3 separate regions of the Homo sapiens genome follow, and all the other regions are linked to region 1. Evidence: fine-mapped expression QTL. A gene starts in region 1. Each other region holds a variant in brackets. All regions are shown on one strand. Distances are between the middles of the regions.

Region 1 (4,245 bases):
CAGCTGGGGGCCTCTCCAGTATGGTCCTAGATTCAGATCCACACAAATTTGGGATTTGTAAAGTAACTTAACTGCATAGTGTCACTCACTGAAATCACTCTATCTTGAATAGAGTTTACGGGATTTTCTGATTATCACATCTACTTAAACCCAATATTACTTTTCCTTTATCTAAGCCATGGGTTTCATAATTCCAGAGTTTTCAGGACATAATATTCAGTTGCCTCTCTTTCATGCCCACCTAAAGACAATCTTGAACAATGTGTTTAAGACTCATTAAGGTTTAGTCTTTTTCCCTTTAAAAACTATGTAGAGAAAGAAAGCTGATAGTTGAAGGATGATGAAAGTAATACTTTTACTCTTGCAAGCTTGCCTTTAGTAACTCACAACTTACACTTTTCTCCTTCCTGTAGTGAAAGCGAAGTTTAGTAGAAAAAGTCAATAATTTGGCATCCTGATTCCATCACTTAGTGCTATGTGATGTTGAGCAAATTGCTTTAAAAGCCTGGAGCCTCAGATTTCAAAACTGTAACTGGGGATATTAAATGGAGATAATGAATAACCACCTTGCAGAGTTATTAGGAGTGAAATGAATTAAAGGACTCACCAAGCTAGTATATAAGCTCCAGAGAAGAGGAACAGTGAATGTCTTTTTTACTGTCTATTCTTGCTGGCATGAAAACGCACATAGCAGCTCAATAATATTTTTTAAATGAACAAATAAATTCAGTGTCCCCTTTCTCTCATCAACCTTAATCCTTCTTCCATAATCATGTTTTTCTTTCTGTCTTCTATTATTTTCTAAAGCTTTCTGGGCATTCTATTTTGTCCTCTTATGTATTTTCTTCCCTCATATCGGCTATCGTCAACTATACACCATTCAGAGAAAGTACCTTTCTAAGTAAGTTATCTCCCTAATACCACCTACTCTCCATATCGAATGCGATGAGGGTGGAGGGGATAGTCAAAACATAAGATTCAAGGCCGGACGCGGTGGCTCACGTCTGTAATCCCAGTACTTTGGGAGGCCGAGGCGGGTGGATCACCTGAGGTCAGGAGTTCAAGACCAGCCTGGCCAACATGGTGAAACCCCGTCTCTACTAAAAATACAAGAATTAGCAGGGTGTGGTGGCGCATGCCTGTGATCCCAGCTACTAGGGAGGCCAGAGGCAGGAGAATCGCTTGAACCCGAGAGGCAGAAGTTGCAGTGAGCCGAGATGATGCCATTGCACGCCAGCCTGGGCAACAGGGCGAGACTCCGTCTCAAAAAAAAAACCACACACACACACACACACACACACACAACCACGTAAGATTCACAGCAATTCATCTACTTTTCCACGGCCACCAACTCATGTTAACAACAGTGAAGCCCTGAACCCAGAATGTAACTGTAAGGGGACACTGCACTATCACTTGTCTCTCTTCGCTGACAAGAGTCTCGCGTGTAGGAAATCCTTGGCTCTCAAAAGTTAAGGCGTCGTTTGAGCTCGCCTCCCGCTAAATAGAGGGGTGCGTCCCTTGAATGAGACACACAACCTGAACCGACTGGAGGGATTTCGGACCCCCTGGTGTTGCCCGAGGGCTGGTCACTTTTGGACCTGTCCCGGCTCCTCTGGCCACTCCTCCGAGGAAGCAGAGCTCTTCAATCCCTGGAGGGAAGCTAAGGGGTGCGGCCGGCTACAGGGCCTTGGTGGGACAGTGTAAAGTCCATGACAACATATGAAGACAGCATGAACCGCAAGACTGGACCTTTTAAGCCATGACTACGATCACCCTTACCCGCTCACAACCATGCTGGACCCCACTACCGCTTAATAGCGGACCCTAAGAAAGAAACTTGGCTCACCCCCAACCCATAAATCAGACAGCTAGTTTCTATTTATTGGCTGCGCCCCTCTCTCCCTCACCCTCATTGGCTATCCGAGACGTAAAACCCTCCCCAACAAGGGAACCCTCGCGTACGGCGGCACCCCCAGACTAGCAACCTCAACTCAGCCACCTAAAACCCCGGTCCCCCACCTCCACCCAGGAAACGCGGCCCCGAGGCGCCTGGAGCTGTGCCCTCCAAGGACTCACCGTGTAGTAGGAGAGCAGTCCTGCATTGTAGTCCAGCACGAACCAACGGTACTGCCAGCCCTTCATCACGTTAGTCCATTTGCTCAGCGGCCCTTCCATGATGGACGCCATCTTGGGAGCCGCCAATGACAACAAACGGCCTGACGTCACTCGCCTATATGGCATTCAGCATGCGGGGGGCGGGGCCGCAGGGGGCGGGGCGGGTCCTGGGCGGGTCCTGGGCGGTGCCGGCAGATGCTCCAGCGATCAAGTCAAACACGCTTTCTTAGGGCGCCTATTGTGTGTAGGACTCCATGCCACGGATGCGAGAATGCAAACGTGAATACTGCTATTAAGATTATTTATAATCTGTCATGGGATTAGAGTAAAGAAAAAAGATTATGAACATATTAATAAATAATTTTACTGGCCATGATACCTTCCACTTCCAAAAGATTTCATATCTGATATTCATTTATGCATTCATTCCACAAATCCATTCATTTAATAAATATTCGCTGTTTTGTGCTAGGCATTCTTCTAGACATTGGGGATACAACAGAGCCTTCATGACAGGTGAGGGGAATGGTAAAATAAATAGTAAATTATATCGTACATTAAAAAATCATAAATGCTATGGAGAAAAACATAAGCAAGGAAGGAGAGAGCGCTGGGACTGCTATTTTAAATTCCCAAACAGGGAAGGCCTGAGTGAAAAGGTAACTTTTAAGCAAAGACCTGAAGAAAGCGAAGGAGGGAGCCTGGTGGAAGAGCCTTCCAAGACGAAGGAATAGCAAATGCAAAGACCAAATGTTAGGAGTGAGCGTGGCATCTTGAGGGATCAACAAGGAGGTCAGTGTGCGTGGAGCAGTGAGCCAGGGAGAAAGTGGTGGGAGATAAGGTCAAAGAAGTAGGGATAGATCACTAACAGCCTACAGGGGCAATTTAAGCATTTATTGGCTGGGCGCGGTGGCTCGCACCTGTTATCCCAGCACTTTGGGTGGCCGAGGCAGGCAGATCACTTGAGATCAGGCGTTCGAGACCAGCCTGGCCAACATGGTAAAAGCCCATCTCTACTAAACATACAAAAATTATCTGGGCGTGGTGGCGCACCCTGTAGTCCTAGCTGAGGCACAAGAATCACTTGAACCTCGGAGCCGAGATTGCATCACTGCACTCCAGCCTGGGTGACAGAGCCAAATTCTCTCTCACACAAAAAAAAAAAAAAAAAAAAAAAAACCAAAGGATTTATTGACCACCTACTATATCTAGGCACTGTTGGAGGTCCTGGGAATACAGCAGTGAATAAGCTCTCTCAGAGCTTAAATTCTGTGGTGAAAGCAAACACTAAACAAGTAAACAAGAAAAATATCCAATACTGATTAACACTGCAAATAATTTAATAAATTATTTTAATAGGAAGTCAGTGGGTAGCTAATTTATAGGGGGTGGTTATAGGGCAGGCCTCTTAGGAAGTGGCTTTAAACTTAGATATGGAGGATAAGAAAAGGCCAGCCGTGCAAATATCAAGAGAAAGAGCTAAAAAGGAAACTAAAAGATGAGGCACTAGCTGGAAACGGAGGTGTGGTCAAGGGAAGGGCTTTCTTTGTCCTTTTTTAAAATTATTATTTAGATCGAAGACACTAGAGAATATTACTTTGCTGATTTTCAAGAGAGGGAAAAACTGGGGACATCCTAGAGAAAAGAGAGAATAGCAGCAGTGAAGCCCTTCATAAGATTGAGACCTCTTTTTGTGTTGGCAAAACACTGGAATAAAATACAAAAAAAGAAAGAAAGGAAAAGACTGAGACCCCAAGCCCAAGTGCAAAGGTTGACTTTTGATACTAGCAGAGATACTTTATCCAAAGTAACAAGAAAGAAGAGCAGAGAGTATGGGTTCAGATGCCAGTGGATCAGTAGTTAGATGGTATAGAAATGAATGAGTTTCTGTTTTTTTTGTTTGTTTTGTTTTGTTTTGTTTTGTTTTTTTGAGATGGAGTTTCACTCTTATCGCCCAGGCTGGAGAGCAGTGGCACGATCTCGGCTCACTGCAACCTCCACCTCCCAAGTTCAAGAGATTCTCTTGCCGCAGCCTCCCAAGTAGCTGGGATTACAGGCGCTCGCCTGGCTAACTTTTGTATTTTTAGTAGAGACGAGGTTTCACCATGTTGGCCAGGCTGGTCTCAA
Region 2 (4,245 bases), 130 kb before region 1:
GGATTGTATTTGTACATAAGAAGACTTAACAACAATAAAACTTCCTTCTGGAATAAATAAAAGGCCAAATTTCATTTACGTGATCCAAGTTATCCATTGCGAAGAACCCTAAAACGTAGTTTTATTAAGCTGGGCTAACACAGACAGGTAGCAAGTACAAATTACACTAAAAATGTTCTCGATGAGTGGCTAAACAGTGAGCTACTGAAATAGGCTAGGCTGACCTACTGTACAACTATCTAAAGTCCTGAATGATTTTCAGAGATCACCCAAACTGGCTTAAACACTGTATCAGCTCCTCTGCTTCCCCAATCTTCAATAGAAGGCAGTATGTATTCCCTAAAATACCTAGTCACTCAAACAGGGCATGGTGTGGTTTACTGGTTATCTGTAGGTAAGCTTTTGGATAACTATAGGTGCTTCTACTCACCTATGTAATTCCAGAGCCAAGAAAAACTAAAATAAAAACTTTATCTCTTTTGTGCCTCCAATCCTATCTTTCCTTCTGCTTGGCTTTGGAATATACTATGATCTACAACAGGAAATGAAAAATTTAGACACATACATAGGAAATCTAGATATCACTAACATCTAGAAACAGAACATAAGCCCTAAGTTCTGACACTTTAAGTATAATACATTGGGCTGGGTTTGGTAGCTCACGCCTGTAATCCCAGCACTTTGGGAGGCCAGGAGTTCAGACCAGCCTGGGTAACATGGTGAAACCCCCATCTCTACTAAAAATATAAGAATTAGCCAGGCGTGGTGGTGCATGCCTGTAACCTCGCTACTCAGGAGGCTGAGGCACGAGAATCAGTTGCACCCAGGAGGCAGAGGTTGCAGTGAGCTGAGATTGTGCCACTGCACTCCAGCCTGGGCAACAGAGCGAGACTGTCTCAAAAAATAAAAAATATATTTTAAATCAGGCCTCAAAAGAAAATGACATTGCCCCATTTAATTTATAAGCTAAATATCCTTACTATCCAAATGCAAATGGACTGTCCTATGCTATTGTGTCATTAACAACAGTAGGTTAAAAGTCTCTATGATTTGGCAAACAAACATATGCAACTGAAGAAGTAAAAGAGATGAGTAATTATAAACTCATTCAAACAACATTTCTCAACTGGGCTGTGGAGCTGGTCACCCACCCCTTGCTAGCCACTTGCTGGAAATAAAGGGGTGTAGTGAGGTAGAAATAGTTTTAAAAATTCCTATTCTCAAACAATAATATTCTTATTTCAGAAACTCTCAGGCAATAAAATATATATTTAGGTTGAATACACCAAAATTTTTCAGAAAAAGAGACAACATATATGAAATTTTTAACCCACAATAATTCAAAATATATTTTGTTTCATGAATAAGGAAGAATAATTAAAATCCACTAACGTAGTTCACTACCAGAAAAAAATCCGTAAAAATTTAAAAAATATATCTCTATTATATTCTTCATTATGGACAATAACTGTCAGAACTTACTTCTCTATTTTCTAAGAAAAACTTTTTTTGTGGAAGGTTTTGTAAAATATGTCCCTGTTCTAAGCAGTGATAATGGATAAAATGGAAGGAAGGGATGAGTCATTCAAACATGCTCCCCTCCTTCCCAGCTACCAGAAATGACATTACCAGAAACAGTAGCTAAGATAATAGCCAAACACAACAGTTGTTCCATAGAATAAGCTCACAATACAGTTTAATGTAGAAAGGTACTATGTTTCAGATCTGAGTTTTTTTGCTATTAAAGAAAAACGCCATTATAATTTTTGAACTCCATACACAAAGGTAATTGAAAGTAAAATTTACTTACTTTGGCAATCTGCAGCAACACAATGCAGTGTTTAATTGATTCTACCATGCTCTATAAAAACAAAACACTGATTTTAGGATCTTGGCTCAAATAAATGGATATATAATGTTAAAGCTTAAAATATAAAAATCAGTTCAGATGTATAGAGTTTAAGTCTATACTACACAAGAAATATCCTCTTTGGATCTAGTGGGTTCTAGTATGCTGATAATGCCAAATGAAGTTATTCATTAGCAGTTCTATGAATTTTAACGAATGCCACAAATTGTTAATTTATACTAAATAATATCTAATTTTTTTTTCTTTTTTTTTTTTTTTAAGAGACAAGGTCTCACTATGCTGATCACGCTGGATTGCAGTGGCTATTCACAGGCACAATTATAGCACACTGCAGCCTCAAACTCAGAGGCTCAAG[C/T]GATCCCCGTCTCAGCCTCCCGAGTAGCTGGCACTACATGCACATGCCACCGTGCTTGGCTCTAAATGGTTTTTCAACACTTCAAACAGAAAGACATACGAATCTGATTAACTTACGAATTCTTACATCAACAGCAAGCAACCCTAAGAAATCTACCTAAGACACTGATAGGCTGGGTATGGTGATTCACACCTGTAATCCCACTGCTTTGGTAGGCCAAGGAAGGAGGATCGCTTGAGGCTAGGAGACCAGCCTAGGCAACATAGCAGAATCCCATCTCTATAAAAAATTAAAATAAAAATTAGCTGTGTGTGGTAGCGTGTGCCTATAGCCCTAGCTACTCAAATGGCTGAAGCAGGAGGATTGTCTGAGCCCAGGAGTTCGAAGCTGCAGTGAGCTATGACTGCACCATTGTACTCCAGCCTGGATGACACAGCAAGACCCTGTTTCTTAAAAAAAAATAAAAAGACTTTGATGGAAGTATGGAGAATAAAGGATCCTGTCAAAACACTGGTGAATCAAATTATTATTTTACCTGTTTTAAAATTTTGAGCAAGGTACACATCTCATAAGTAGCCCATTATATAATGTCAGAAGTCCACTATATCAGAAAACTTGAATTATAATATATTTTAATAAGAAAGAAGCCAGCTGCAGTGGCTCATGCCTATAATCCCATCACTTTTTTTTTTTTTGAGACACAGTTTCGCTCTTGTTGCCCAGGCTGGAGTGCAATGGCACGATCTCAACTCACTGCAACTTCTGCCTCCCCAGTTCAAGCGATTCTCCTGTCTCAGCCTCCAGAGTAGCTAGGATTACAGGCATAAGCCACCACGCCTGGATAATTTTGTATTTTTAGTAGAGATGGGGTTTATCCATGTTGGTCAGTCTGGTCTGGAACTCCCAACCTCAGGTGATCCGCCCACCTCGGCCTCCCAAAGTGCTGGGATTACAGGTGTGAGCCACCGCGCCCGGCCAATCCCACCACTTTTGAAGGCTGAGGCAGGAGGATCGCTTGAGCCCAGGAGTTGAGACCTGGACAACATAGTAAGACCCTGCCTTAAGAATCAAAGAAATTAATTATTTTTTTTAAAATATGAAATAACATATCCACTGTGCGTGGAAGACACCTTTTATCAAGATTTCAAACGAGACCAGAAACAGGTAAATGGTACATGAAGTCAATTTCGATTAAGGGGCTTATTCTATTAGTATTATTTTAAATTCCTTTAAAAAAAAATACAATGCTTAAGCACCCCTGTATAATATTCATAAAAACTAACATCTCAATTGCTGTCATCAATAGTGGCAGCTTAAAATAGAAATAACTTTTTAAAACATTTTCTAATGCAAAGTCAGAATGTATCAAACATATAACTTACATTTGTTGTCTCTTTGAGAGTTTCAATTTTCTGTGAAAAATAATAAGTTTAAACAGAAATAATCAGAAGCACAAAGAAGGACGGTTATTTTTTACTGGCTAGTCATTTAAAGAATTTTACCAAAATGTACTCATTCTAAGTGAGTACAAGCAAGTTGGGAAGGGAGTACTTTTTGTTGTATTTTGTTTTTTATCTAAATCAATTATTTGTATAAAAATTCCAGACTTTTATGAATTATATGTTCTCTTTAATAAAATTCACGTGATTCAATTTAAGGTTTGTAAGAATAATATAAAACATTCTTATTCCTGGCTGGGCACGGTGGCTTGAGCCGGTAATCCCAGCACTTTGGGAGGCCGAGGTGGGCGGATCATGAGGTCAGGAGATCGAGACCATCCTGGCTAACATGGTGAAACCCCACCTCTACTAAAAATACAAAAAATTAGCTGGGCGTGGTGGCAGGCACCTGTAGTCCCACCTACTTGGGAGGCTGAGGCAGGAGAATGGCGTGAACCTGGGAGGCAGAGCTTGCAGTGAGCCGAGATCACGCCACTGCACTCCAGCCTGGGCGACAGAGCAAGATTCCATCTCAAAACAAAACAAAAAACAACAACAAAAAATTCTTATTCCTTACCTGA
Region 3 (4,245 bases), 170 kb before region 1:
ATGCAGCTACCATGTAATTGGGAGGTGACACTAAGGGGATGTGGGTGTTGGGCTCAGTGTATGGTATTTAGCTGTAATTATAGCATCTGCTAACCTCTCTTGCCATTGTAGATGATTGGTATAAAATGTGAAGGCATGCCAGAGAGCTTCATCATCGTTTTGGTCTGGAAGGTTAGGGGTAACCTGAGAATAGGAAGAATAAAATGAGGTCTTCAGATGCTAAGCAGGTCCAGGGACATCTGCCTGGGGGTTAGGTTTAAGAGCTATCTTTCTTCTTGAATTTCTTTCCTATCTTCCCTTCCCTTGTAAGATTGAAGCACTGAAGTCATTCTCAAAATCAGACCTGGTCAACTGGTTCAAGGCCCATAGAGGGCCAGGAAGTAAAATGCTCAGCGTTCATGTGAGTATGTTTAACTAACTCCATCCATTCTAGGGTTGTCATTTACTGAGTGAGTTTGGGTGGTTATCATCAGAACTCTTAAACCCCTAAATCTGGTCAGCATATTTTTCACTTTTGTCTTTGTCCTCTTTCAGGTTGTTGGATATGGGAAGTATGAACTGGAAGAGGATGGTACCCCTTCTAGTGAGGATTCAAATTCTTCTTGTGAAGTGATGCAGCTGACCTACCTGCCAACCTCTCCTCTGCTGGCAGATTGTATCATCCCCATTACTGATATCAGGGCTTTCACAACAACACTCAACCTTCTCCCCTACCATAAAATAGTCAAATAAATAAACTGCAGTCACGTTGGCCTGAAGCAATGTGTATTTTAAAATGTGTTTGTTTGTATTTTATGGAGTTAGTTATACTACTGCCTTAGGGCTTCCATTGAAGTTTTGCACTGGCATCATAGCATTTGATTTACTTTTTATCCTTTGTTGAGACTAATAAACCCAGGGTTACTGTAGGAGCTGGCAAAGGAAAATTAGCAGAATGGGCCAAGCGAGACCAGAAAGCCTGCAGCAGCACTTTGAGAAGCCCTGGCCTGTGTCCTCTCAGACTGAGAATCTACTTCTTGAAAGGCCTTACGTAACCAGTATATTGAATAACTAACTAAATGCTAGGTACTAATACCTGTTTTTTTAATGTATTTTTAAATAAAAAAGATGATAGATAGATAGATAGATATAGTTCTGTATTTCCCTTCAGAATGAGCCATCTGCTGCTGTGGCATTCATTTTATTCTATCTATCTATCTATTTTTGTTCACTGTGGGGTGGGGATCTATAAATACACACTCTTCCCAAACCCTCTAAGGCAATAAAACATTTTTGGATAAAATGTTGGTAGGCAGCCCTACATGTGCAATATGAGTTAAGTGAAGATTCTGGGGAATTGCCTGGCAGGGGCTAAAGACAGAACATACAATCTGACAGAGGAAAAGAATGGATCCTCCATTATTTCAAGTGTCTTTCTTTGAAAAGCTAGCTCTTGTATTCAAGGTTGCCAAATAATTGGCTTCCAAGTTTAACCATAAAAGATAATAAAAGATGCACATTTTTAAAAAAAAGGTTGGAAAAATTACTTTATGAAGCCTTAAGCACTAAGAATAATTAATTAAACTGTAATCCAGGATTAGATACAATTTAATAATAGTTCAATTCCAAAATAAAAGTTATTGTAGGTAAGACCATGAAATTTCCTAACACTTGATTTTAATACATTGCGCTAATTTTCTAAAACAACTCAGAGGAACCCATATTTACAGTAGGCAGAATATTTATGAAAAAAATCTGGCATCAGGTATATTTATATATATGTATGTGTGTGTATA[C/T]GTATGTGTGTGTATATATATGTGTGTGTGTGTGTGTATCCCGAGATTATATGAACTAAGAAACAAGTTGTGTATCTTAACAGCAGTACTAGAGCGCAGAGTTTCAGACTTGGATTTATAAATGCTTTCAACGTGTGGTGTTTGGAAAAGGAGAAGACATCATCTGATTTTCAAAACCTGAAGTTTTTCTCAGGACTGAAGTCAAAATCGTAACTGCCACAGAGGGAAAAGGGAAGCTTTTCCCCTTAATTGTTCATCTGCGTCAGAAAGTCCAGTATCCCTGAGATAGGAACCACTGTAATTAGAAGATTGGAATGAACAGGTTTCTCCCAAAGGAAGATTGTTTGTTGCTGAATTATGCCTACTGCCCTGATCATCAGGTATAAACTTTGCATCTTCCAACCTAATGCTTGGCAGCACCAAGACGTTTCAGTAATGGTTCATCATAAACCCAGCATTCTCCATCTTCATGAAATAACTGTAAGACAAAGAGGAAGAATTTAGTTACATATTTGCTTTGTACTTCTGTAATATACTTACTATTTCATATCTGCTCCCCACCCCGCCATTAGACTGAAATGAGTTTCAAGTAGGGACCAGCGATCATCTTGTTTATAAACAGTGTTTGGCACATCACTTCTTCAACATTCACTGAAATAAATTAGGAGGAACAGCACTTAGGAGGGTGGGGCAGGCAAGCTTACCCTTGTCTCCCACTGAATTTCCTTCTCCTTCCTTTCTCGGGCTTCTGCTCTTTGTCTTTCTTCAAGCCTGTGCTTTGCTTCAGTTGCTGCATCAATGTCTCTGATTTTTAAGTTGAAAGTGACATCCTTCCAAAGGCTAAAACAAAGAGGTAAGAGGAGCTGCCAATGTTGAGAATGAAAGCCTGCAGCCATCCTGAATATAGTATAATACAAGTCAAATGGCTTTAAGTGCTGTAGGTCACAGACTAAATCTCCTTACGCTGGCACCAGGGCACTGGAGTAAGGAACAGACATATGGGCTCAGAAGACTCCACTGCTAGTTGTCAAAGAAGGAAATAAGGGCTGCCTGATAGTATGATAAGGTCAACAGAAGAAAAAGAATAGTGGAAGCTGAGACCTGGGATTCTACTTCTGGCTCTATGTCTAACTTACTGTGCAACTCTGGGTCAATCAGTTTACCTCTGTAGGGCTTGAGTGTCCCTTAATATATACCTGTAAGTGTTAGAGGAACTGAGAAGTTCCATTTCAGAAAAACTCCCTTGGATTTAACAATATGATGGAGAAAATAGTATGAATGGAGAGAATAAGGGTCAAGAAGTAAATTACAGAGGCTTTAAAGTTAGTTAAGATGTGGCTTCCTCTCAAGGCCTTTATTCTCATTTCAGGAAAGAAGGTAAAGAGAAGTTAGCTGACTGAGCCATCCATGGTCACAAAGGTAGTAAGTGGTAGTTCTGACATACGAACCCAGGAATTCAAACTTGGTCTATACTATTATGCTCTGCCCTACTGTCTCTCAAACCCAGCCCTGTGCCTACGCCTAGGCAAAGTTTAAGCACTGCAGCAATAGTTCCACTTAACAATGTCGGCTTACCTGCGGGATTCATACTCGTTCTGATCTTCCAACTTCCTCACTTTCTTCTTGATTATAGGCAACTTCTTGGTATCTACAAAGACTGTATTTTCCTAGAAAACAATAGAGGTGGATGGGAACTAGACCCATAAACCCCTAACCTAATGTTAGATGCATTGTAGTGCTTTTGACACTTCAAATTCTCTAGGTCCAAAATGCAGTTAACTGGCTCCTCCTGTTAATTTCATAACATCTTTCCTCTGTTTAAGAACACTGAGTGGGCAGTAGTACAGAGTGCAAGTTCTTTGAAGGAAAGGTCTATCTTAACTCATTTTGGTATCTCTGGTGCCAGGCAGTCAGTAAATTTTATTATACAAAATCTTCAACTGTGTGTGTATGGAAACACACAGTTTAGTGCTTCATTTTATAAACATACGCCACATACCTAACATTTACTGGGTTCTTACTATGTGCCAGGCATTGTTTTACATATATTATTCTCAAGTGTTTTGAGAGCAGAGAGAAAAGTAAAAATGATTATAATTACCTATACTGCTGGGAGAAGGTGGGGGAAGGAAAGAAAAAGCTTGCCCTGAAGAGATGACATACACTGGAGCTGTCCTAAAGTTCCAGCTCTAATATACTGTAGAAGGAAATGCATTATGAAGGAAGTACTAATGAAGGAAGCCAGAAAAAGGGATAGAGTACAATCTAATGTAGCCTAAAACAAGTGGCAAAATAGAGGATCTTACCCCTGTTGCATATTTTGCATACATCACACCATTCCATTCCCCTTCAATTGAGCAAAAAGACTTCTTGTCATTTGGAGAACTGAACAGAAAAGGAAATACTTGTGTTAGTCTCAAGTTGAAAATTCTACCAAAGAATCTGCTCAGTGTGGCCCAACTACAGAGTA

What was found. PIP is the estimated chance that this variant, and not a neighbour inherited with it, causes the effect. A credible set is the group of variants that fine-mapping cannot tell apart.
Region 2: its variant is the best candidate, but not a certain one, in a credible set for the expression of OSBPL9 in esophagus muscle (GTEx, PIP 0.68).
Region 3: its variant is the best candidate, but not a certain one, in a credible set for the expression of OSBPL9 in whole blood (INTERVAL, PIP 0.82).

Annotation. Positions count from the first base shown.
Region 1 is chr1:51,615,056-51,619,300 of GRCh38, reverse strand. It overlaps OSBPL9 (oxysterol binding protein like 9), which reads right to left and starts at 2,209. Exons shown (of 24, transcript NM_024586.6): 1 at 2,080-2,209. The coding sequence starts at 2,190. LOC105378719 (a long non-coding RNA gene) reads left to right here. Exons shown (of 3, transcript XR_947339.4): 2 at 2,591-2,634. RefSeq lists enhancers at 696-1,603, 1,604-2,512.
Region 2 is chr1:51,747,761-51,752,005 of GRCh38, reverse strand. It overlaps OSBPL9 (oxysterol binding protein like 9), which reads right to left. Exons shown (of 24, transcript NM_024586.6): 7 at 3,608-3,637; 8 at 1,811-1,861. Among named protein-coding and RNA genes, the nearest start is that of MIR761, 87 kb to the left of the region's middle. The variant C/T (reference allele first, on the strand shown) is at 2,226.
Region 3 is chr1:51,785,723-51,789,967 of GRCh38, reverse strand. It overlaps OSBPL9 (oxysterol binding protein like 9), which reads right to left. Exons shown (of 24, transcript NM_024586.6): 21 at 4,082-4,160; 22 at 3,351-3,442; 23 at 2,480-2,615; 24 at 749-2,253. The coding sequence ends at 2,179. NRDC (nardilysin convertase) reads left to right here. Exons shown (of 31, transcript NM_001101662.2): 30 at 311-400; 31 at 535-758. The coding sequence ends at 732. Among named protein-coding and RNA genes, the nearest start is that of MIR761, 49 kb to the left of the region's middle. RefSeq lists silencers at 1,145-1,345, 2,825-3,025. The variant C/T (reference allele first, on the strand shown) is at 1,776.